Homo sapiens: one gene and its partners. The protein of the gene in region 2 purifies or fractionates together with the protein of the main gene of each other region. This does not show direct contact. Each region holds a gene or a part of one and is shown on either strand. Other genes may lie near its edges. The genes, in order: DDX50, RAC2, ELMO2, TLN2, CLCC1, SPCS2 and AKAP1.

Region 1 (3,500 bases), on a different chromosome or scaffold from region 2:
AACAAAACTGAAGTGAATAGTGGTCTGGTATTGAGGTGAGGATAACTTTGGTTCGGACGTGTTGAGATATGGAGCTGGTGCTTAGATTCTTAGAGTTGGAATGTAGGTGAGGAAGGGAGTCTGGAAGTACGTATTGAGCCATGAAAATAGTACTAAAAGTGAACATAGAGAACAGATACTCAAGGAGCATCCACTGGAGGAGGAAGGAGAGGAACCATTGAAGAAGATATGTGGTAGAGGTAAGAAGATAGAGGTAAGAAGGGAATATAAAGTGTAACTGAAACCAAGTAGACGGAGAGTGCCAAGCATTGTGGGTCTAAAGTGGAATTATTTATTTAATCACCTTGAGATGTTACTGGGCTTAGACCGAGAGGTCTCCTTTTGCCTTGCTTCAACTTCTCTCTGTAGTGCAGGGCCCAGAAGCAATTCAAGCCCCAAGGCTGAATCGATAAATAATCTTATTTTTCTGTAGAACCTATTGGTTTGGAAAGATGTGGTCTAGTGTAGTTAACTGCAGATCATATGATGTAATGTGTAACTGCAAAGCATTTTCACACATATTGTTCAATTCTCACAGCAATTCCAATTTTATGGATGAGAAAATTATATGTGAAATAACTCTAAAAGTTGTGTAAGTTATGGTGAACATTTTGGTGGTAGTAGTTTTTACTATCACTAATTACTGCTATCTATTTTGAATATTTGACCAGGTAATTCATTTTTTTGAGAGTGGCCGAGATTACAGGCGTGTACCACAACATGCAGCTAACTTTTGTATTTTTGTAGAGACGGGGTTTCCCCATGTTGGCCAGGCTGGTCTTGAACTCCTGACCTCAGGTGATCCGCCCAACCTCGCCCCCCCAGAGTGCTGGGATTATAGGCGTGAACCACCACGGCTAGCCACCAGGCTAAAGTCCTAAATTCCCAAATCATTTATTGTGTTCTGTAAATATCACAACACTGGCCACTAGTTTGAGATTTTAAAATTGAAGTTGAAAAATAGTGTTTTTTAAAAAAATTAACTGAATTTAAAACGTAAAAAAAAAAAAAAAATCCAGGATTACTGTCCTTCCGTGGAAGTATAACAATTGGACTTCTATATGAATTATATAGTTTCTTTTTGTTTTCCTTTAGCCTGTGAATTGTCAAAGTGCAGGGAGGAAGCATAATGTGAAAAGAGAATGGGCTTTCAAGTCAGGCAGTGCTAGATTCAGTTTCTAGTACTTATAGCTGCAGGAAATCCCACATGTGGATCTTTGGCAAGTTGCTTAACCTCTTACAACTTCTGTTTCCTTGTCTATAAAATGGCAAAGGTGGCTGGGCACAGTGGCTCACGCCTGTAATCCCACCACTTTGGGAGGCCGAGGCTGGTGGATCACCTGAGGTCAGGAGTTTGAGACCAGTCTGGCCAACAGGGTGAAACCTCGTTTCTACTAAAAATACAAAAATTTAGCTGGGCATGGTGGCGTATGCCTGTAGTCCCAGCTACTTGGAAGACTGAGGCAGGAGAATCACTTGAACCCGGGAGGCGGAGGCTGTAGTGAGCCAAGATTGCGCCACTGCACTCCAGCCTGGGTGACAGAGCAAAACTCTATCTCAAAAATAAATAAATAATTAAATAAAATGGCAAAGGTAATACAGGTTCACTATCCCTTATCCAAAATCCTTGGAACTAGTTGTATTTTGGAATTCAGAATTCTGGGGATTTTTAGAAAGGTAGCACCCCGGTAGGGTTTGGGGCCTGAAACCTGTAATCAAACACCTTAATATTAAATATGAGTGGTCATACTAAGCAGGATAAATGAAGACTATAAAGAGCCTCACGTTAGTTCAAGTTAAATTTTGCCATCAAATGAGTTCAGGTAAGGTTTTGCCTCCAAATAAGTTACAAAAAAAACTTTCGGTTTTCAGAGCTTTATGGATATCGCAATTTCGGATAAGGGATTATGGACCTGTACTTCCCTTATAGGGTTGTTATGAAGATTTAAACAAGATAAGCTGAAAACACATTACACAGTGCTGGGTAGGTATTCAATAAGTATTAATTTTTTTTTCTCTTGGAAATGTTGGAAGTTTTTGCTTGTTTAGTAATTTATAATTCTGGGGTTGTCTTTCTTTCCCTGAGGAGAAACCGTTTTAATTTTCCTTAAATCTTATGATGGGATTAGAGAGGGGCTAGAGGCTGAGTCTTGAGAATGCTAGGAAGGGGATGAGAAAGATAGCAACAGTTGAGGCTTAGAGCTTGGCATTAGTAAGCAGTCTGGATTTCTACCAGGCAGGTTTTCAAAGTAACTGTAGATTGAGCTGAACTGGTGGGGGAGTCATGCTCTAACTTCTCTAGAGTCTTAAAAGAAAACCTCTGACCATCTTGTCATTGCTTCTTTGTTTGTTCACAGAGTGACAGAAGGAAGTCAAGGCACCATTATGACTCGGATGAGAAATCAGAAACAAGAGAAAATGGTGTTACAGATGACCTGGATGCTCCCAAGGCCAAAAAATCTAAAATGAAAGAGAAGCTAAATGGAGACACTGAAGAAGGATTTAATAGACTTTCAGATGAATTCTCCAAATCTCATAAGTCAAGAAGAAAAGATCTACCAAATGGAGATATAGATGAATATGAAAAAAAATCAAAGCGAGTATCATCTTTAGATACTTCTACTCATAAATCAAGTGATAATAAACTAGAGGAGGTATGGAAGCTTTTTATTTTGCATTTGACATTGTTGTTGAACTATAGGTTGATTTGAATTTTTTTAGGCTAATTAGAATTGATTCTATAACATTTCTTGATTAGTGTCTAGTATTCTTAGTTGCACTAGAGTCTGTACAGGTGAAGCCTGAGCCTTTTTTCCTTTGGCCCTTGTTTATTTCACTGTATGGCCTTTTTCTTGGGGCGAGGTGGGAGCAATAGTTAAATTTAAACCTTTTCTGTACATTTGGGTTCCTAAAGTTATTCGGAATTGCTTGATGGTTATCTACTTGAATTTCTTTTCTTTTTTCTTTTTTTTTTTTTTTTGAGTCAGAGTCTCTCTCTGTTTCTCAGGCTGGACTGGAATGGCACAATCTCAGCTCATGGCAACCTCTGCCTCCCGGGTTGAAGCGATTCTCCTGAGTCAGCCTCTCAAGTAGCTGGGATTACGGGCACGCACCACCATGCCTGGCAAATTTTTGTATTTTTAGTAGAGACGGTGTTTCTCCATGTTGATCAGGCTGGTCTTGAACTCCTGACCTCAAAGTGATCCACCTGTCTCGGCTTCCCAAATTGCTGGGATTACAGGCATGAGCCACCACACTGGGCTGATAATTAGTAATTCTTTATATTATATAAATACGATAATTGCTGATATTCATATACATTTGAGCTTAATGCATAATCTTTGGGGAAAAGTGTTGAATCCTTGTGTTATGGCCTTTTTTTTTTTAATTTGTGAATTTGCTGTTTGGCAGGAAGCACATGTGTTTGTTGATCTAAATAAGGTCCTTTAAATCTGTATTTC
Region 2 (2,500 bases):
TTCCCATGACCTCCAGTAGTGGAGGTTGAGGGTTTCTCGCCCAAATTCCCAAATTCCCGCCAGGCTCTCAGCCCACTTTGGAACTCACCCTCCCCCCCAGTACACACGCTTTCGCTGGGGTTGCCGCAGTTCTGTTCCAGCATGGCATATGGTCCATGCCTGGCCAGTCAGAGCACAGCACTGCACCACTCTGACAAATATGATTGGTTAAAAGGGGGCCCAGGACCTAAGCTGGTCCAATCACAGTAAATCTTAGTTAGAACTTTGCCTGGGATAGACATTTGCTCTTTTTGGCTGAACTTGAACTTGGAAGGATGAGGCCCTGAACTTGAACTTGGAAGGATGAAACCCTGAACTTGAACTTGGGAGGATGAAGCCCTAAGTCGCCTGCCTGAGAATGAACCAGCCAGCAGAAGGCAGAGCCCAGAGCTAAACAAGCCTCGATGACATCATTTGAATACCTTGATCAAGCTGCACCTGAAATCACGATATCTCCAAACTTGAATCAATAAATTTATTTTCTGCTTAAGCAGGTTGAGTTGGGTTTTCTATTTGCAATAGCAAAAGTCCTGACTGGCAAGGTTTAAAAGTTTGAAGACTCTCACAGGTAAGTGCAGCTCAGGATCCTGTGAGTGCAGCAGAAAGTCTTAAGAAATGGCAGGGGCTGGTTGAACCCAGATTTTCCATTGGCTGAGCAGATATCCCCAGAGGCGTAGAAAATTAAATTTGTTTTATGTTGTTCCAAAAGAGGAGAACTGAGGCCAGAGGAGCACACTTCTGAGACACTCATTTTTGCTGGGTAGAGGAACTCTCTGGCAAGCAGGACCATCGATATTAGAGCAGCTGGCCTCAGGAGGGAGTAAGAGCCCCATCCCTGAAGGTACACAAGTTGTGGCAGCAACCATCTGGCCTGCAGTTTCCAGAGGGGAGTCAGGCGTGGGGTGGGACTGGAGTGAACGGGTAGATGCTTCCACATGCGGCAGTTGGCACTGACGGCAGGAACACGGGGGTGGCTTAATGGGTCCTGGGGCTCCCCTCTGGCCCTCAGGAAGGCAGGAGCATGAGGGGCTTGGGATGCAGCACCTGCAAATTTGCACGTTCCTGGCCTCAGGAGGCCTCCAGTACAGAAAAGACCATCAACGAAGCTCTGCAGCCATCTGCTAAGAAACGCCACAGGGAGGGGACAGCATGGCCAGCCGGGGTGCCATCAGGCTTTGGGTGGGGATCCTGGAGGATCAGACCCATCTAGGTGGGAGCGCTGGGGTGCAACCTGGAAGGAAGATAAGCAGGGAAAGAGAATTTGGGGACATGCAGAATCCACAGCTCTCGCCTTCCTGGCTCACAGCTCATTCCCACCTCCAGGTCTTTGCTCAAGGTTTGACTCCCACCAGGACTGCCAATGCTGCTCTCCCCACCTCACCAGTCCTCTCTGTCCTTCTGGTCCCACACCTCCAGGAGGCCTTGTGGGCTGCCTCCAACTCACTGACCCCACCATCTGCCCCCTGGGGATCATAGCTCAGGCTCTCCCACCTCCACCCACATATGTGGGTGCAGGATCTCCCTGGCTCGACTGGGCTCTCCTAGGGCCAGGGACCAAGGCATCTTTTCCATCACCTCCTGCAGGAATGGGCAGAGTGGGGCTCCGTGACACCCACTCCCTGGCCCGGGGGTGGGGGGTTACCAGGCATTCATTCATACCTTGGGCCTTGCCTCTGGAAGATGAGCTCCAGAGAGTGAGACTGGCCCAGGCAGATGACAAGTAGGCTGCGGAAACTGAGGCAACCTCCATACCCACCTTCTTTCTGTCCTGGCCTAAATGCCACTCACAGTGAACCAAAGGCCACTGCTCAGCCAGGGCCTGCTGTGTATGGGAGTTGGGCACTAGAGTGGGGGACTCTTACCCCTAGAGGAGGCTGCAGGCGCGCTTCTGCTGCCGCGTGGGCTGAGGGCACAGCACGGCCCGGATGGCCTCGTCGAACACGGTTTTCAGGCCTCTCTGGGTGAGAGCTGAGCACTCCAGGTATTTCACCGAGTCTGGTTGGGGAGATGGACAGGAGAGCCAAGGCCTAAGTGGCGGGGGGGGTTCTGGGCCAACATGTCTCCTATGCCATACAACCCCTTCCACGCCATACACCCCTCCCACGCCATACACCCCTCCCACGCCATACACCCTCCCGTGCCATACACCCCTCCCACGCCATACACCCCTCCCACGCCATACACCCTCCCTCCCACGCCATACACCCCTCCCACGCCATACACTCCTCCCACGCCATACACCCCTCCCACGCCATACACCCTCCCATGCCATACACCCCTCCCACGCCTCCCACGCCATACACCCCTCCCACGCCATACACCCCTCCCACGCCATATACCCCTCCCACGCCATACACCCTCCCACGCCATACACCCCTCCCACGCCATACACCCTCCCTCCCACGCCATACACCCCTCCCACGCCATACACTCCTCCCACGCCATACACCCCTCCCACGCC
Region 3 (3,066 bases), on a different chromosome or scaffold from region 2:
AGATCTATTTTCATCACCACCCTCATTTAAGTCTCCCAGCTACCAAGGCCAAGGTTTGGAGCAACAGCCTAAAACACCAGCTGGAAGGCTGGGCACTATGCACAGGCAACACACAGGGTAAAGAGCGTGTCTTCTTTGTAAGGCACAAGTACTCGAGCTGTTCCCTGGCTGTGTCCCTGGCAGGGAGAAGAGGGAGGATGTGTTCATGGGGGTGTACAGTATGCCTTACCTTGCTGTACCCAGCAGGGTTGAGCAGAAAACGCTTCGTCCCAGTGCAGCAATCTGTGAACACTCTTAACCAGCAGGTGTGTGTCTGTGTGTGTGTATGTGTGGGAGGAGCGAATGATGAGGAGGAAGGGACTCTTGGAAGGTGACTAAGGGCTCCAGCTGGAGCTCTCCAGAGTCTCCCAGATACATGGAGATCAAGTCTTGTCAAGGTGAAATCTTCACCATTGGGCAGGGGGCAAGTACAGACAAACAGCTGTTAACAGGAACCACAGTTTGTACATGAAAGAGTATTTATTGAAAACATGGTTACTGACAGGAAGCTCCTGGCTGCTCTCTGGTTACAATCTTGGCTCACAACTGGAAGTGTTACATACTTTTTACTTCCCCTCAATTTTATTTTTCCCCAAGGTTCCATCCTAAGATAGGTAGATCTTATATAAATATATATACACGTCTGTATAAGTATGGCCTATAGTAATGAAAATATATAGTACACTCTTCATTGGGTAGTACCTACCATGCCAGGCCACCAATACTGAATGCCAATGTGCTAACGTATGTCCAGGGAGAGAGGCTGTGTGTGTGGTTTACAAGTGCTGCAGCACCAGGGAAGCCCCACTGGCACAGGTGTGGCCTCAGCCGGCCTCAGCCAGCTCCCTGAAATCATGGCCAATGGCAGAAACCATAGCACTAGGAAGGGAAGGCCAACTTCCTGGGGTCTGGAAGGCCAAAGGAAAGCAAACTGGAGGGGGCTGCAATTCAGGTTAGGGGAGATTTCTCTCTGAGGAAGGAAAAGGTATTAATGTGGGGGAAGAGCAGTAGAATCTAGTGACCTCACCACAGTCTAGGCCCAGGCCTCAGCTGGGTTTTCCCTGCAGCGTTCCTGGAGACTTAAGAGGGCAGGACTTGGCCAGGAGGTCTTTGACTTGCTGGGATGAGACTGAGCGCTTGCAGGGAGAAATTTCCGTCTGCTCTGATATCTGTATGGGCCAGAGAGATCTGGTGGCTCTAAAGACCAGAGATGTTAGAGCCAACCTCAGAAGCAGCAACGTCTTGGCACCATATGAAGCTGGAGTGAGCCCTCATCAAAAAAGACAAAAGCAAAAGCCTCAGGCTTGTACTCAGATCTAAGATACAGGTAGTCACTTCAAGGCTCTCAACACGCCCAACACACCTGTCCTCTGCAGGCAGCCTTTCCTGGGCCAGCTGTTGCTCACGTGGGGATCCAGCTGATCAGAGAGCAGGCTCAGGAGGAAAAGGTGAGTGGCTGTTGTTAAATCCATTTCAAGAAGCAGTTTCTTGGACTGGAAGGCAAGGGCATCTGCTGTTTGTTCCTCGTGGCCCAATCCCAGGCTTCATGGTGATGGAGTGGGCAGAGCACCCTGCCTTCATGACTCTTAGTAGACAGGGACCAAGAGGAAACTCTGGGTGGTCCGAGGTGGGTTTGAGAAATGGCTGGCATTTACTGGCCACCAAAATCACTACAGATTCTGTACAAGCAAAAGACAAGGCACCAGAATGTAAGTGTTTCTCCTGGGCCCAAAATCCCTTCTCCTGGGTACCGTCGTTTCTGGCTCCAGGCTCAGCCATAGTGATAGACAAAGTCATAGCTGCTGGGCTCCTTGGGGATGGGGGGTGGGGCTTCGGGAATCTGGATGTTCTCCAGGTCCAGGAGCCGCAGCTTCATCTCCATGCTCAGCAGGGTGTCCAGGTCACTCTTGGTCAGCTCACTGGACATGTCCTTCCCCAGAAGGGCACTGAGGCCATCAATCCAGATGCAGTACTGTGGGGAGCAAGTTGCAAAATGTCACATCGTGACCCCTGGTCAGCAGGAGATCCTGCCAAGGTCTCTTTTCTGATGGGGCTCACAACAGTTCCTTTTGGAACTAATCAGTATAGGCAAAACTGATTTGGAATGATAGCAAAGATAAATTAGGAGGTGATCCTTCACTTTCTCAAGAGATCTGGTTTTTATAAGGGGTTTTATATTACAACTCCTTACAATAATATGAAGGAGAACCTAAAAATGCAATAAACGAATACAGCAAAATGAGATCTGAGTACTGGGGCATCATCTACCTGAAGTTACCCAAAATCAGAAGCGAGAGAAGGGAAATATGTATTAGGTGAAAAGAAGCAAGACACAAACAGAAGTCACTGTGGGATCTCAATTTTGTGCCCCGCCCCCCCGAAAACAAAATTAAAAATAATCCAGTCAATACATATTAAAGAGTAAATACTAAAGAAATGGAACTGGTGGGTCTCATGCTAAGAGGGGGTGACCAGGAAGCCTTCTGATCCCACCGCTCCCTGACTCTTCCTGCTTCCTCTGCTGCCATTTTCCTTTTTCCACACCGTTGCTCACCTGGTTCCCCACTTGCTTGTTCTTCATTTCCTCTCAACCAAATTCCACTAGCGGCAGCTCAGGCCCTGCCCAAGTGTCTCCTCTGCCAGAAGTCCCACCTCTAGTTCCCAGTGATGGCTCTCAGAGCTCACCAGGCACATAGGGTCTCAAATGCAATCACTCATTTAATATCTAGTATCTTCCAGTGCTGCAGATGGAACTACAGGGCCCTTGTCAGAAGGACCAGTTCCATCTGGCTTCAAAGTCCACACTGGATCCATTACAACATGTGACCAGGAGCCCCTAGGAGGAAGGATCTGTCAAGTTCTCTTGGGTAGCTGACCACAGAGAAACTGAAAAGGGGAGAATTTTCCCAGTCCCAGGTAAATGACTCATTCCTAGTTGACCTTATCTTTGTAATGACAACCTATGGCTGCTGCTGAAGAGTAATGTGGAGAGCCCAGCTCACAGATAAACAATCCAGAGTGTGACAG
Region 4 (3,500 bases), on a different chromosome or scaffold from region 2:
AATCAGCTGCTCCTGGCACACAGGGGAGCTAATAGTGGGGCTCACAACCTGAAGTGAGACAGGAACAGGTTTTGGGCACTGTGGTTGAATCCTGGTCCCTCTCCATGTGCCCCCGCAGTCCCATCAAAGCCCTTCCTGCTCTGGGCCTCGGTTTCTTACTTACAGGACCACTGCTCGGTTTCTTACTTACCTGACCATTTCATTCAATGAAACCATTGCTTCAGTCTCACACGCTCTGCTATTCTACTTCATCCTTGTGATTTGACATGTCCCACTAATTTATAACTTCATTAGTCACATGTGACAGTCCATACTACTGCCCTACTTCCATACAGAGAAATTTCTGAGATTTCCCAATTATACCTCCTTCATTTTAGGATCCTTTGAATTGAGTCTTTTGAGTTGGGATACAAAGACTACCTAAAAGAATTCTATTTCTATTCCCAGAAACACCTGAAACTCTGCCTCATAGTCCTTTAAAGAACAGGGGGGTTCTGTCAGTTCCTTGTAAATTCTAGCAGCGTGGACAATGAAAGCTTGAGGGAGACGATGCTGCAAATCTTACCACAGGCTATTGATGCCAAGCTGAGCCAGATCACAGATCTATACAACATGACAGGCCATCAATTCCAGAAACGGACATTTCCCATCTTCTGCTGCATCATCACCGAGAGGACACATGAAGTAGAGGGGAAAGCGTATTTGGAGGCAGATGGACTTGAGTTGTAACTCTAGTTCTGCCACTTACTACTTCTGTGGCCTTAACCTACTGACATCTAAGGGCCTCAGATTCCTCATCAGTAAACTAGAGATAATGGTGCTTAATTTGCAGGATTACCGGGGAGATGTAATGAGGTGATGTATGACACACTGAGTGTGTATACCCTGGCAACAATTAAAATCCCCACTCGGACCCTGTGCAGCCTAGAAAGGGTTCCCATAAACTCTGTGGATTATTTCTGAACCCATTTGTAATGCTGTACCACGCATTGCAAGAACTATTTTTGTGCAGGTGTAAAGATGCACTGAGAAGTCCAAAGGGGAGACACAGCAATTTGCATATAGAAATGAACTAGTGAAAAGTACCAACGGCCTGAGGACTTGGGCAAAGAACAAATGATAAAAGCAGAATTTGACCGCTTATGCTAAAATCCTATCATCACTTAAGACACTTTAAGGAAGCTCTAAATCTCGGACTATTTAAACAAATTCTGCCCCTGCTACACACCAAATGCCTGGAGGCAGGTAACAGCAGGTGATACTGGGTAGAAAGGGCTGGGGTGCCAGCTGGCTTACCTTGGCACATGCCACAAGCTGGGAGGTGGAGAGGGCACACTGGGTGGCAGCAGCAATTACCCTGTTCTGTAGGACAGTGTCTTCGGCCACTTGGGCAACATTCTTTGCCTTTAGTACCAACATGGCAGCTGCATTGGCAACAGCTTTGGCCAAACTCATTAAAACATCCTAAGAAAAGGGAATCAAAGACTATTCATTTATTTTTCTCTAATCACCTTTCACAGCCTGAAAATAAACGTTATTAAAATTCCATTTGATCTTTTTCCTTCAGTACTTTAGAAGTTTTTTTACTTTTTTTTGAAATGTCAACTTATCCTTAGAAGTAATTAAAAAAGGAGACTTGTATCCTAATAACTCAGTCTCTTACATCCATTAAGTAGCATAGGTTTAAATCTAAAATAGTTAATTTGAGGGAAGGGTCATTATTTTAACCACTGATTCCCATTCATGCACTTATCTAACACGAAGTCTTGACCACGTCTCTTGAATGAGTGGCTGATATGGTAGATCAGGAGAAGCTGAAAACATATCCAGATGCCACAACATCATGTGCCATAAGAAGGTTATAATTCATGGCCTCCAGTCATCATGCCCCACTGCAACTTGAAAATGTATCTTTTGGATTTCTACTTTGCACAAAGATCCAAGTCGTCATCAGAAATTTAGCCATATCTCTACCTCCAGAGGGCAACATTTGATGTGCACAGACACATAGCTGGCACCAATACCTATAGCTCAAGAGCCAAGAAATGCTCTGAACATGAGTTATTCTCAGTGTTCTGCAGCCTTCTGGGTAGGAATTAAATTATTACAGAAAGCAGAAAGAGAGCCTATATAAATACACTAGCTATAAGATGGTCTGACTGAAAATGCGAGGAGCTAGTTTATGCTTCAACTCAATGACTAGGCATTCTGCCTGCAGAAAGAAGAATCCTTTGATTGAGCCTACCAGATTTGTCACCCATCTGTCTGACCTGAAGAAGAACCATGGTTACAATTAATTTACTTCTTTGCTTTTAATACTGAAAGTAGTTTATTTGACTTGGAAATGCCTTCCCAAACATATGAGCCATTTTTATTTGGAACAAACACGTCAAGGCTTTTCCCTTCAAGGAAATACGGTCAGAAGTCTTTATTAATTCATCAGATGATAAAGAGCACATTTGATTCTAAATGTAAAGGGCACCCACAGCGTCTTTACAGTGAGATATTTTATGAGAAGATACATTGGAAATAATATTCAGCCTGCACAATTTTACATAGAACAAAGACTAGATACAATCCAGCTAAACCAGAAACCCATGAATCTATCAAGTAAGCTGATTTTAAAATGGACAAAAACTAAGTGGTCTTAAAGGAGCAGGTTATTCCAGTCTTTCTCAGGTCTGTGATGTTTCCTGGCTATCCAAGGTATAATTAAAGCCCATGGTGCTGAAAGCAGAAGATCCCTTTGGGATCTGACTGGCACTTGTCTACCACACAACTTTTAGGAATTGCTCCCACTATGGCAAAGTTACAATTCCTGGACATCTATCTCAATGCTCAGTGAAAACACAGCTTGAATGTCACAAATTATTAAAAAGATTTTTAAAAATAACTTTCCAAAGTAGGTCATAGTATTCCCTCACTTGATATGAATTCATCTTTTCAGATGGGGGGCCAGGATTTGGTCACATAGAATCATGATTGTTCTAAAGGACTTTGTTAGAATTGTTTAAAGAAATCCTGTTCCTCTTATTAATTTTGTCCAAAAAAATACAGTCAGAAAAAGAATGTGATACTACAGCTATAGCTGCTGACAAGGCCTTTGTCAAAATTTTCAACAAGACCACTATTATATAGCCAGTGTAAAATAAATCTTTGTTAACTATGGGAACATGCAGTACATTAAGAAATCAAGAAAAGCTCTGAGATATGATCTCAAGAATCAGAAGAATAGAGTAAGAAATCCAATGTCAGTTACCCATAACTGGAGGAGGTTGCAGGATCACCTTACTGCCCTGGTCTTTACCTAGAGAGCTAAACAATTGAAAACATTCAAGTCTGGCCTGTCCCTGCTAACAAAGGCTCTGTAGGACTGTCACCCTGAACCTGAACCTGCTTCCTTTGCACATCTGAATAGAAACAAACATTAGGAAGCAGGGTTGACATTCACACACAATGAAAATAATCTGCTAAAGCAGGGAGAGGCAGGAAAAGCTTTT
Region 5 (3,500 bases), on a different chromosome or scaffold from region 2:
CTGGCTTTCCCCTCAAGTGAGATAGGAAGTCACTGGAAGACTTCTGAGATAGGTGACAGGTAATTACTAACTATAAAAGCTGGAAGGACCATCTTAAGTTGTTTTTTTTTTTTTTTTTTTTTTTTTGAGACGACGTCTCACTCTGTCACCCAGGCTGGAGTGCAATGGCACGATCTCGGCTCACTGCAACCTCCGCCCCCTGGAATCAAGCAATTCTCCTGTCTCAGCCTCCCAAGTAGCTGGGATTACAGGTGCATACCACATCACGCCTGGCTAATTTTCTTGTATTTTCAGTAGAGATGGGGCTTTGCCACGTTGGCCAGGCTGGTCTTGAACTGCAGACCTCCAGTGATCCGCCTGCCTCGGCCTCCCAGTGCTGGGATCACAGGCGTGAGCCGCCGCGCCTGGTCCATCTTTCTAGATACATGTAGATATGTTTATTTTTATATGAAACTATGGGAAGGGATTCTATAATTTCCCAGATTCTATTATGCTCATAACTGTTTCAAAGGTTTAACAGCTGCAATTTAAACATTTCAAATGACAATACAAATTCCTCTCTCAAACAGAAATGGAAATGTCCCTTTAAAAGACTGATAATGGTGAAAAACTTCTTCTTACCATTCTACAGGTAAAAAGTATAGTCTAGCCAGCCAATGACACTGAAGATTTGGGGAAGCAATGTTTTTGATCCCTGGCCCCAGCCCACTCTTCCATCCAGCTAATCCTTTAGGGCTCTACTGTACCTTCCCTAGAGCTCCGGGCCTTCAGTGATGCCTTCTCTCTGATCTCTTCAAAGATAGAAATTTCTGTCATGCTCATACGCTGGCTTCCCATGAAGGTTCATATGAATTACCATCTGCTCTAACAAACTACTGTTAAATTGTATTTTACATAAAAGTTAAATCTAATTTTATTTCTTCTGAGGAAGCTGAACTAACTTTTGACCAGAAAGGGGAGAGAGTGAGTGGCTGTATCACTCATGATATAATTAAGGGTGAGGGGTAAAAGAGTAAAAACAATCAGACCTCTTCCAGAAGGATTTAGAACCAGTAATGAAGGGACAGCAGAATAAAAGAGTTGCTGACTTACACTGGGTACCACCGTGGGATGCTCTCGTGCCTCTGCGTCTGGTACATCAAATGCCCGGAGCACTTCAGGGCTCTTGTTGCCAGTCTGAAATCTCAAGTCAACATCTCTCTCTCTCAAAATCTCTCTTCTACCCTCATACGTTTTGGCATAAGGGCCTTGCTCAGTGGGGCCCATTTGGCCCCTATAATGGAAATCGGCATCACCTGCTCCACCATCAGGTCTATAATCAATTTCCTCCTGCCGTCTTCTATCCCGTGGCCGAAGTGCCTGGGGAGGTTCGCTCTCAGGACCGCCTATATGTCTCAGCACATGAACTGATTTTCCAGCACCATAGCAGAAACTCTGTAAGGAAAAGAAATACATTTTCCTGAGGACTCAATGGCTAACTTACAAAAGTTATGAGGCATTTTATTCAGAGTGCTAACAAAGTTATGTAATTTAACTTACTTGTGGCATTTATAGACATAAACATGTTAATTTGACTTTTTTTCATTAGAGACCTCTTTAGATTAATACAAGGCCAGAGTGGCCAATAAAACTTAATAAATCTTTCAGTAGACATTTTAATCAGCTAGACACATTTCGATTGAACTATAACAATGGCAGGCTGAAGCCTAGATATTTAAATTAGAAGGTTCTAGTCTGATAATTATTCATGTTTCTAGATTCATGCCCATCATATAAGGTAAATGCTGAAAATATTTAAAGTTGTATATCATTATGTAAACAATCTTCTGTACATTTTCTTTTTACAAATATAAACTAGGCTTAAGTTACAGCTAAAATTCAACAGGTTTTGATTCACATTCCATGGGAAAAAGTAGGCAGCAGTTCCTTACAGTGTGGCCCAGGGACCCCCGGGGGATACCTGAGACTTTCAGGAGATCTATGAGATCAAAACTTTTCATAATACAAAGACATTATTATTTGTCTTTTTCACTGTCCCCTCCTGAATATACAACGGAGCATTCCAGATGCTAGAGTGACAGCCTCACTCAGACTCAGGGGATGCATGCTTGCGTGTACAGTACTCGTATGTTTTAAATTTGTTTTAACTCCTAATATGTAAGTATCAATAAATATAATCACCTTAAGTAAGAGCTGTTTGTGGGCTTCAATTTTTAAGACTGCAAAGAGGTCCTGAGAACAGAAACTTTGAAAATTTCTGTACTAGTTTTTCAAACACTACTATTTGAAGACAAAAGCAGCAAAAGTCAAAGAGCATAACTTTCCTGAGGGAGCACATGAAACAAAAACAGATGGTGAAGACTCTGCTGATAATTTCAGTTTCAGAGACTAAACTATGACTATAGAACTAATGTCACCTAACAAAAAAATACCCGTCAACCACATAATCCTGTAATCACAAGCCAAAAAACAAAACCAAAAAAGAAACGATTTCAAAGTGAACAGAGATAGTGAATCTTGTATCCTTAGGGAAGAGAATTTCCCTTGGCACATCTGAGTTCTTTTTGTTTTATGCGACAACTGCTTTACTTGGGTAATAGCTAAAAAATCGATAACAAAAAACACTGAATAGACCATGGAGGGATGACGAGTAATATTTCTTCTTAATGTCTGCTCCTGGATCCCCAAACTCTTTCTCAGCATACCCATGTTCTTCCACATCCCTTTCTGGTTCTGTGTCAAACTCAATGCTCTACCCTTCTCACTGCTGCAAAAACTGACTAGAAATAAGAAGTCCCCCTTTCTGGGAGACAGAAATCAACTTCCTATTTCCTGTGTATTAATTTACCAAGGTTAACACATTTAAAAAGAGGTTATTATTCTAAATCACTGCTATGACATATGCAATCAAACTAGAGAACTACTTTCTTGATTATAAAAATATACAAGTAAGTATAATATGTCTGTATCATTTAGAGGGGCAGAGGGGAGGAAAAAAATCTGTATCACTTAAAAATCGCCTTCTCATTAAGCGTGACTTAGCCTGATTTACAACATCAAAGAAGCCCAATAATTTTAGCATTGCCTTTTTTTCTGTAAATCTTGCTAAATATTGACAGTGCTAATATTTAATACTAACCAGTATTACTAATATTAATACTAAGATTTAATATAAATCTTGCTAAATACTGACAGTGCATATATATATATAAATATAAATATATAATATATAAATATATATTATATATAATAAATATATAAATATAGACAGATATATAAATATAAATATATATAGATAGATATATAAATATACATATATGTATAATTTTTTTTTTTTTTTGAGACGGAATCTTGCTCTGTCGCCCAGGCTGGAGTACAGTGGTGCGATCTCGGCTCACTGCAAGCTCCGCCTCCCAGGTTCACCCCGTTCTCCTGCCTCAGCCTCCCGAGTAGCTGGGACTACAGGCGCCCGCCACCACGCCCGGCTAATTTTTTGTATT
Region 6 (3,500 bases), on a different chromosome or scaffold from region 2:
ACTTTACGGCAACACAGCCCATTTCGAAGCAAGTAATGTCTCTACTACAGTATGGAGAACCATCTGGAAGAAGGGGAGTTGCTATTAGGTGCTTCTTTTTCTGATTATTACTTCTCATCATGCTCAAAAACTGCTCATCAACTAAAATGTATGCTGCTCCTCATGTTCTCTCTACTACTAATTCGGGTATTTTAAAAGCTATCTTTTTTTTTTTTTTGCCTCAATTTTGTCTTCCTCAACACTAATTGCAAATTGCTTTCCTTTTGTAATAATAAAAAGAGAAAGCAAAAATTAGTTTCTTTTATGTGGGACCTCACAGGATAAATTAAAAAGAAGGGCAGTGTGCAGAAATAAGTGAACCTGGGTCCAAGACTGCCATCTTTAGCAAGGCTTGTTTGCAAGGTTGGCCCTTGGCTGGTATCTGACAAGCTGGCTGATAAAACAAATCCCTACACTGATATAAATACATTCCCTCAGTGATAAGAATGGCTCACTGTGCCTCAACTGTTTGTATAAATGATGTGATTTATGTTGAACACCTTTCCTTCTGGAAATCTAGAAAAAGTTCTTTATGTTGCCAGTATCTAAAATTTCAAGATGATATCCCTTACACAGGTCAATTTTCACCCACTGTAAAACTGCTATTGCCACTCATCTTTTTATTGCAGCACTAAGCAGACCCTCAATCCAGAAACCAATGTCCTTCAGATTAGAAAACTAGAGTTCAAAGATGTTAAGTGCCATACAAATAGTAAATGACAGGCCAACAAAATTCTTTAGGGCTAAATTACAAATACATGGCTCATTATAAAACTGTCTCTTCTTCAGTGATATAAACTTATTTTTATTTGCCTTAATCCCTGAACTCAATCCCAAAGCAGATTGTGGCCTTATTCTTAAAGGTGTACTGTACTTCAAATCACAAGCTGATTGGTTCTGGTCAGGTGCAGTGGCTCACACCTATAATCCCAGCACTTTGGGAGGCTGAGGCAGATGGATCATTTGAGGTTAGGAGTCCGAGACCAGCCTGGCCAACATTGTGAAACCCCATCTCTACTAAAAGTACAAAACTTAGCCAGGCTAAGTAATCCCAGCTACTTGGGAGGCTGAGGCAAGAGATCACTTGAATCCAGGAGGCAGAGGTTGCAGTGAGCCGAGATGGTGCCATTGCACTCTAGCCTGGGTGAACAGAGGAAGACTCCATCTCAAAAAACAAACAAACAAACAAACAAACAACAACAACAACAAAAAACAAGCTGACTGGATTTAGACTAAATACAAATGTATGTAGGCAAATGCTTTTTTTCCTTACCCAATAAGGTGAATCCTTATTATCCAAGGGAGAATGGAGTCAGGCTACTTTATTTTAATCCTCACTTTTCCACTTAATACTGGAAGGCACTGGGCAAATAATTTAACCTCTCTAAAGCCTTATTAGTTTGCTAAATTGTAAAATTAAGATGGTGAAAGTATCTATTTCACAGGTTGGTATGAGAAGTAAATAGTGTAATTATAAAACATAGCACAGTGCACAGTGCCTGGTACCTAGCAAGTACTTCATAAAAATTAGCTATTGCTGTTGCTATTAATGATATAAAACTATATAATACACTGCATCATGGTTACCTGACTGTATGTATTGTCTCCCTCACTGGGTCACAGGGACTATACACTTTTGTATTCTCAGAGCCTGGAACACAATATACTCTCAATAGCTTTTTTTTTTTTTTAATGTCTAAATCCTTATAAAGAAAAAAAGGGAAGAAAAAGATCTCTAAAATGTTACTCTCCAGTTTAAATTTAGCAAATGTAAACATGGTCAAAATGATCTCACTTGGTTCTTATTCACAGAATTTCTTTAAGGGATGGAGGGCAGACAGAAGGTATAATCATAGCTACCATTTCCTGAATGCCTAACATGTGCTACGGATGTGCTAAGTATTTTATATACACTATCTCACTTAATTTCCACAATAACTCTACAAGGTAAGAACAGTTAAAATCCTCCTTTTACAGATAACACTAAGGGTTTAAAAAACCTGCCAAAGGTGAAAGGCAGAAAGTGGTAAAGCCAGGACTCAAAACCCATGCTCTCTCATTATTCTACACTGCTTTCCCATGAAGTGCAAGGAAAGGAATTATTAGCCATCAAAAACACAAAGAACAGGAAACAAAGAGATCCCTGAAGTGACAGCTATACATTGTATCTTGATTCCTAACAAGCTCTAGTAATAACATTTTAAAAACCTAAAAAAAAAAAAAAGATGTTAATCTTGAATAGGACCACAAAACTCACAGGGTATCAAAAATGTTGAACCTCCCCCCCCAATGTAAAACCAACTGCAATTTGGCTGAAAACAGAGCTCAAAAAGTACTATCTTAAAGAAATTACTCCCCTACACCACCCACTGAAGAGATAAAGACAACTTTTTTTTGAGACAGAGTCTTACTCTGTCACCCAGGCTGAGCGCAGTGGCGCGATCTCAGCTCACTGTAACCTCCGCCTCCTGGGTTCAAGCAATTCTCATGCCTCAGCCTCCCGAGTAGCTGGGATTACAGACAAGTGTCATCACAGTCAGCTAATTTTTGTATTTTTTAATAGAGATGGGGTTTCACCATGTTGGCCAGGCTAGTCTCGAACTCCTGGCCTCAAGTGATCCACGTACCTCAGCCTCCCAAAGTGCCACCACACCCGGCCAAGATAAAGACAACTTTTGTCAGACTAACACACCTGATGCCAGAGCTGGCTGGCTAACCAGTTCAAAGAAAACAGGCATTTGATAGCTTTAATAGAACATTATGAAGAATCATTTCAGTTACGTTTCTCCACTGCACATTTGAATAATAAAAAATTCTACAAAGACACTTCACTGAAGGTATGGCATCAGGAACTCCATAAGTGCTTAGGAAGGATATTAAACACAACTCAGGTCTGAAGGATATGTAGTCAGTACAGGAAGGCATTTTCCAAATTAACTCATTTGAGGGAATACAGCCTTCTGTTCCCATGCATCTCACCACACTCAAAGGGATAGGGTGGGATCAAAAAAAGAGACAAAATAAGCCAGGCACAGTGGCAACATGTTTATAACTTCAGCACTTTGGGAGGCCAAGGTGGAAGGATCGCTTGAGTTCAGGAGTCTGAGATCAGCCTGGGCAACATAGCAAGACTCCTCCGTATCTACAAAAAAATGTAATTTAAAAAATTAGCCAGGTGTGGTGGTGCCCACCTAAAGTCCCAGCTACTTGGGAGACAGAGGCAGGAAGATGGCTTGAGCTCAGGAGGTATAGGCTGCAGTGAGCCGTGATTGTGCCACTGCACTCCAGCCTGGACAATAGAGTGAGAATCCATCTCAAAAAACAAAAGGACAAAATCCTTGGTCATTAGGATATGTCCAGCAAAACAAAATTGTTTTGAGTATGACACATGAACACCTTCAATTATCTTATTTTAATCACAGTGAAAACAGAAGTTATGCAGTGATATAAAAGACCTGAGT
Region 7 (3,500 bases), on a different chromosome or scaffold from region 2:
CGTCTACTTTCACCCTCTTATATCCGCCGTAGTCCACGTATCGAATCTCCACTTCGTTGGTCTCCTCGTAGGAGGCAACCACTTGGGCTCGCCACCAGGCCCCGTCCGCACCAGGGGCGGCACAGATGACCGTTACTGCAGGGTAGGGAGCAGAGTGCGTGGAACGCCTGGGCCAGGGCAGGGCACCAAGGGCCACCTGGCCACTACCCACCTCCCTGCGTTACCTCTCAGAGGCCTGCAACCTCCACAGTGCAGGGGACAGGAACAGCAACCGGCCCCAAGCAAAGCCTCCCCCAAGCCCAAGACCAGCCGAGGGAAAAACCTGGATGTGAGAAGTTCAGCCTAGCAAGTGTGCCGCCCCCGAGGCCATCCAGACTGAGAAGCATTCAGTCTAGATCCATTACTCCAAAACTTCTGGGACCCAAGAGGGACACAGATGAATAGGAATAAACCAAGTAAATATAGCACTCGGGGAATGGGGGCCAGGGCCAGCCTTACATTTAAAAGAAAGTCCCTGAAGAAATCAAGTGCAGCAGATCTCAGCATCCTCATACCTAGGGTGTGCTCCAGCCCACAACTCAGCTGGAGAGCTTGACCAGAAGGGGCCTCCTGGGCCTAAACCCCCTTCTTCTAGCCTTTGCCTCTGGAAGGTGCTGACAGCACCTGGGCAGCCACCCAGGATCAAGGAGTCACTAACCCACTGTGGGTCAGAGGCAGACGAGACCAGGAGGTAAACGTTCCCAGCAGCACCCCAACAGCTGCCCACGCTGGCCAGGATGAGGACCTGTGACATGAGGCTGACTGTGCTGGGTCCTGACCCTTGGAGAGAACCCCTGGCAGTTACCCCTCAGGCTCCAGTTCAGTCTTTACTGCTGGGTTAAGGCAACTTTAGAGAAGCCAATGAAAACTAAGTCCTTATCCTTCCAAAAGGAAAAAATCCACACAAAAGGCTACAGAGATCACTTCAGAAGGTTTTCTACTGCACTGAGTGACCCTGCCATCCCCTGGTGAGGAATGGGTGATGTTCTGACATTCCATCCTCTGTGATAAGGACAACAAAGATAATAATGACAAAGGCTGGGCTCAGACCCCAGATCCTGCTCACTTGGGCAAGTCACCTGAGGCCCAGTTTTCTCATCTGTTAAATGGAGATGACCCAACACGCTGCACAGGCTTGTTGGACTTGGGGATTTTTTTGTGGTAACCATTATATGCATAAGTGCTTTATATGTAATACATACAGTATTCAACACTAATTCCTGGAACAAGTGGGTATCACCCCCTTTAACAGATAATAAATAGGTGGCAGATACTATGACACTGGCTTTGAGGGAAAAAAAAAAGAAAAAATTAAAAAAAAAAATTAGTGGCAGAGCTGGGATCTGAATCCCTGTGTCAAAACTCTACTCCAACACCCATCACTCTGCCAGCCAGTGGAAACCCCAGCTCTGCCTTGCCAGGAAACCCACCCCAGCTCCATAACAATGGCAAGAATTGAAGGATGCTGCTTCCATGAAGGATCGCAGAACAGCCTCCTCCTGATCAGGATCCAGGGCAGAACAGGCAACCCCAGGGGTCCCCCTTCCCGACCCCTCAGGGCACTGCTTACTTTCCACTGGGGTGGGCAAGGTGGGGATTCCAGGCTGAGAGTAACAGAGGTACATCTGCTGGTCGAGGCTGCGCAGCGCGTGGAAGGTAGGGTGTGTGTGCTGCTGCACGAACAGGTGCCCGGCATTGACCTGGTTGACCACAATGACCTCCACGGTGATGCCATCAGGCAGCATGAGCTGTAGAGGGGAAGGGGGAGCGGTCACTGAAACAATCCTTCTTATCTCATCTTTGAATAAGTCCCGAGACCCAAGGGCAAGTCTCTGGGCTAGCATATCTTTGAAAAGGGCAACTCAAGACAACATGGCACCCAGAAGGTAGAGGTTGAAGGACTACTTTAACAACAGAAAGTGTTCGACACCCCTGTGGCTGTTGTCCTGCAATACCACGAGCAGCCATTAGGGGCAGTCTCACCTCAGGGCCAGGCAGGGAGGGTCCCACAGACACTGGGCAACCAAGAAGCAACTGCGGAGGTAGTGCTGGGCCTTGCACAGGCCTGGGCAGGGTCCACCTACCAGCAGTGCCCTCCCTCCCACTTCTGTTGATGAATCTATAAGACCCAGGGAGGGCAACACAGGAATGAGGTGGCCGCTGAGAACAAGACTCCTGAAAATAAGCAGTAGGCAGGCCCCAGGCCCTTTAGCCAACTCCTGTGGACTGGCAGACAACCCCAGGAGCCTATGGTCTGACAGCATCTACGCTGCCCTCCCAAGAGCAAGCAGTGGCCTCAGGTCAGGTCCATGGTCAAGGTCTAGCAGAGTCTGCTTCCTATTTGCTCTCCCTCCTACTGCTTACCCTCCTGAGGTCAGGAGTTCAAGACCAGCCTGGCAAACATGGTGAAATCCCATCTCTACTAAAAACATACAAATTAGCTGGGCATGGTGGAGCACACCTGTAATCCCAGCTACTCAGGAGGCTGGGGCAGGATAATCGTTTGAACCTGGTGGGCAGAGGTTGCAGTGAGCCAAGATCATGCCACTACACTCCAGACTGGGCAACAGAGTGAGACTCTGTCTCAAAAAAAAAAAAAAAAAAAAAAAAAAGAGAGTGAGTCTACGACCGAGCCTCCTGGGAAAAAACTCTTGATTCAGGAGTAAAGCATAAAGTGGTATTCAGCCTACTCTCACATATCCACAGGAAAAAGATATCCCAATCCTTTCCCTCCAGCCCAAGGGCCTTTGCAAAGGGGAAGACACAAAACTGAAATGCCTACCATCCATAAAAAAACAAAAAAACAAAAAAAAAACACGAAGGAGGACAATTTCCTTGGAGCTATAGTCAGCCCATCTGTCCATCTGTGTAAAACGTAGTCAACAGTCGTTGGCCCACAGAATTCTGCAATTCTACTCCCAGTGAGATAAGACCCAACCAGGGCCAGAGGCACACGGCAGGATATGGGCCACGGCCCTGAGAGACCCTGCAGTCAGCAGCACACAGGGGCCCTGGAGATAGCAGCTCTTCCCTCTGCCAAACTCCTGGGGCAACCTCCCAAGAGTCACTGGACTTCCGGGCCTGGTGGGGAGTATTCATTCTTCTTTGTAATTTAGGCACCTCCTGGGGAGGGGAAGGGGAAGGAGATCCTTCACCAGGGCCACTGTTAAGGCCTGACTCAACCAGAAGAAAGAACAAGCGCCATCCAAACCCATGATTCTAGTCCCACCCAGGTCTCAGGTGGTGAACGGCGACCCTGGACACACCCAATCTCCTGTCCGAACTACACCATCCTTTCTAAGCAAACGCCTAGAAAACTTAAAAGGTGCCCAGGGGGAGAGCCAGGAAAAGTAGTCCTCCCATGTGGGGACCAAGAGGCCTCTGGTTTCCTGCCAGCGCTATCACCACCTAAGCCCTGTCCCCAGAACACAGTCCCATAGCAGAACCGACCAGCAGAGGCC

The links.
Region 1: the proteins of RAC2 (region 2) and DDX50 purify together in Homo sapiens (affinity purification with mass spectrometry, with the first as the bait; one study listed by BioGRID). This does not show direct contact.
Region 3: the proteins of RAC2 (region 2) and ELMO2 purify together in Homo sapiens (affinity purification with mass spectrometry; 2 studies listed by BioGRID and IntAct, with this or other methods). This does not show direct contact.
Region 4: the proteins of RAC2 (region 2) and TLN2 purify together in Homo sapiens (affinity purification with mass spectrometry, with the first as the bait; one study listed by BioGRID). This does not show direct contact.
Region 5: the proteins of RAC2 (region 2) and CLCC1 purify together in Homo sapiens (affinity purification with mass spectrometry, with the first as the bait; one study listed by BioGRID). This does not show direct contact.
Region 6: the proteins of RAC2 (region 2) and SPCS2 purify together in Homo sapiens (affinity purification with mass spectrometry, with the first as the bait; one study listed by BioGRID). This does not show direct contact.
Region 7: the proteins of RAC2 (region 2) and AKAP1 purify together in Homo sapiens (affinity purification with mass spectrometry, with the first as the bait; one study listed by BioGRID). This does not show direct contact.

What each region holds. Positions count from the first base shown.
Region 1 is NC_000010.11:68,904,315-68,907,814, forward strand, and holds part of DDX50 (ATP-dependent RNA helicase DDX50), read left to right. Parts: intron 1-1,955; exon of another isoform or gene 1,956-2,023; intron 2,024-2,396; coding exon 2,397-2,693; intron 2,694-3,500. UniProt on the Homo sapiens protein: ATP-dependent RNA helicase that may play a role in various aspects of RNA metabolism including pre-mRNA splicing or ribosomal RNA production.
Region 2 is NC_000022.11:37,224,770-37,227,269, forward strand, and holds the end of RAC2 (ras-related C3 botulinum toxin substrate 2), read right to left. Parts: intron 2,035-2,500; coding exon 1,904-2,034; 3' UTR 1,902-1,903; intron 1,271-1,901; 3' UTR 501-1,270; downstream 1-500. UniProt on the Homo sapiens protein: Plasma membrane-associated small GTPase which cycles between an active GTP-bound and inactive GDP-bound state.
Region 3 is NC_000020.11:46,365,550-46,368,615, forward strand, and holds the end of ELMO2 (engulfment and cell motility protein 2), read right to left. Parts: intron 2,012-3,066; coding exon 1,811-2,011; 3' UTR 501-1,810; downstream 1-500. UniProt on the Homo sapiens protein: Involved in cytoskeletal rearrangements required for phagocytosis of apoptotic cells and cell motility. Acts in association with DOCK1 and CRK. Was initially proposed to be required in complex with DOCK1 to activate Rac Rho small GTPases.
Region 4 is NC_000015.10:62,705,050-62,708,549, reverse strand, and holds part of TLN2 (talin-2), read right to left. Parts: intron 1,465-3,500; coding exon 1,297-1,464; intron 49-1,296; coding exon 1-48. UniProt on the Homo sapiens protein: As a major component of focal adhesion plaques that links integrin to the actin cytoskeleton, may play an important role in cell adhesion. Recruits PIP5K1C to focal adhesion plaques and strongly activates its kinase activity.
Region 5 is NC_000001.11:108,935,985-108,939,484, forward strand, and holds part of CLCC1 (chloride channel CLIC-like protein 1 isoform 1 precursor), read right to left. Parts: intron 2,325-3,500; exon of another isoform or gene 2,182-2,324; intron 1,435-2,181; coding exon 1,093-1,434; intron 1-1,092. UniProt on the Homo sapiens protein: Anion-selective channel with Ca(2+)-dependent and voltage-independent gating. Permeable to small monovalent anions with selectivity for bromide > chloride > nitrate > fluoride.
Region 6 is NC_000011.10:74,959,266-74,962,765, reverse strand, and holds part of SPCS2 (signal peptidase complex subunit 2), read right to left. Parts: intron 1-3,500. UniProt on the Homo sapiens protein: Component of the signal peptidase complex (SPC) which catalyzes the cleavage of N-terminal signal sequences from nascent proteins as they are translocated into the lumen of the endoplasmic reticulum.
Region 7 is NC_000017.11:57,112,746-57,116,245, reverse strand, and holds part of AKAP1 (A-kinase anchor protein 1, mitochondrial precursor), read right to left. Parts: intron 1,788-3,500; coding exon 1,610-1,787; intron 136-1,609; coding exon 1-135.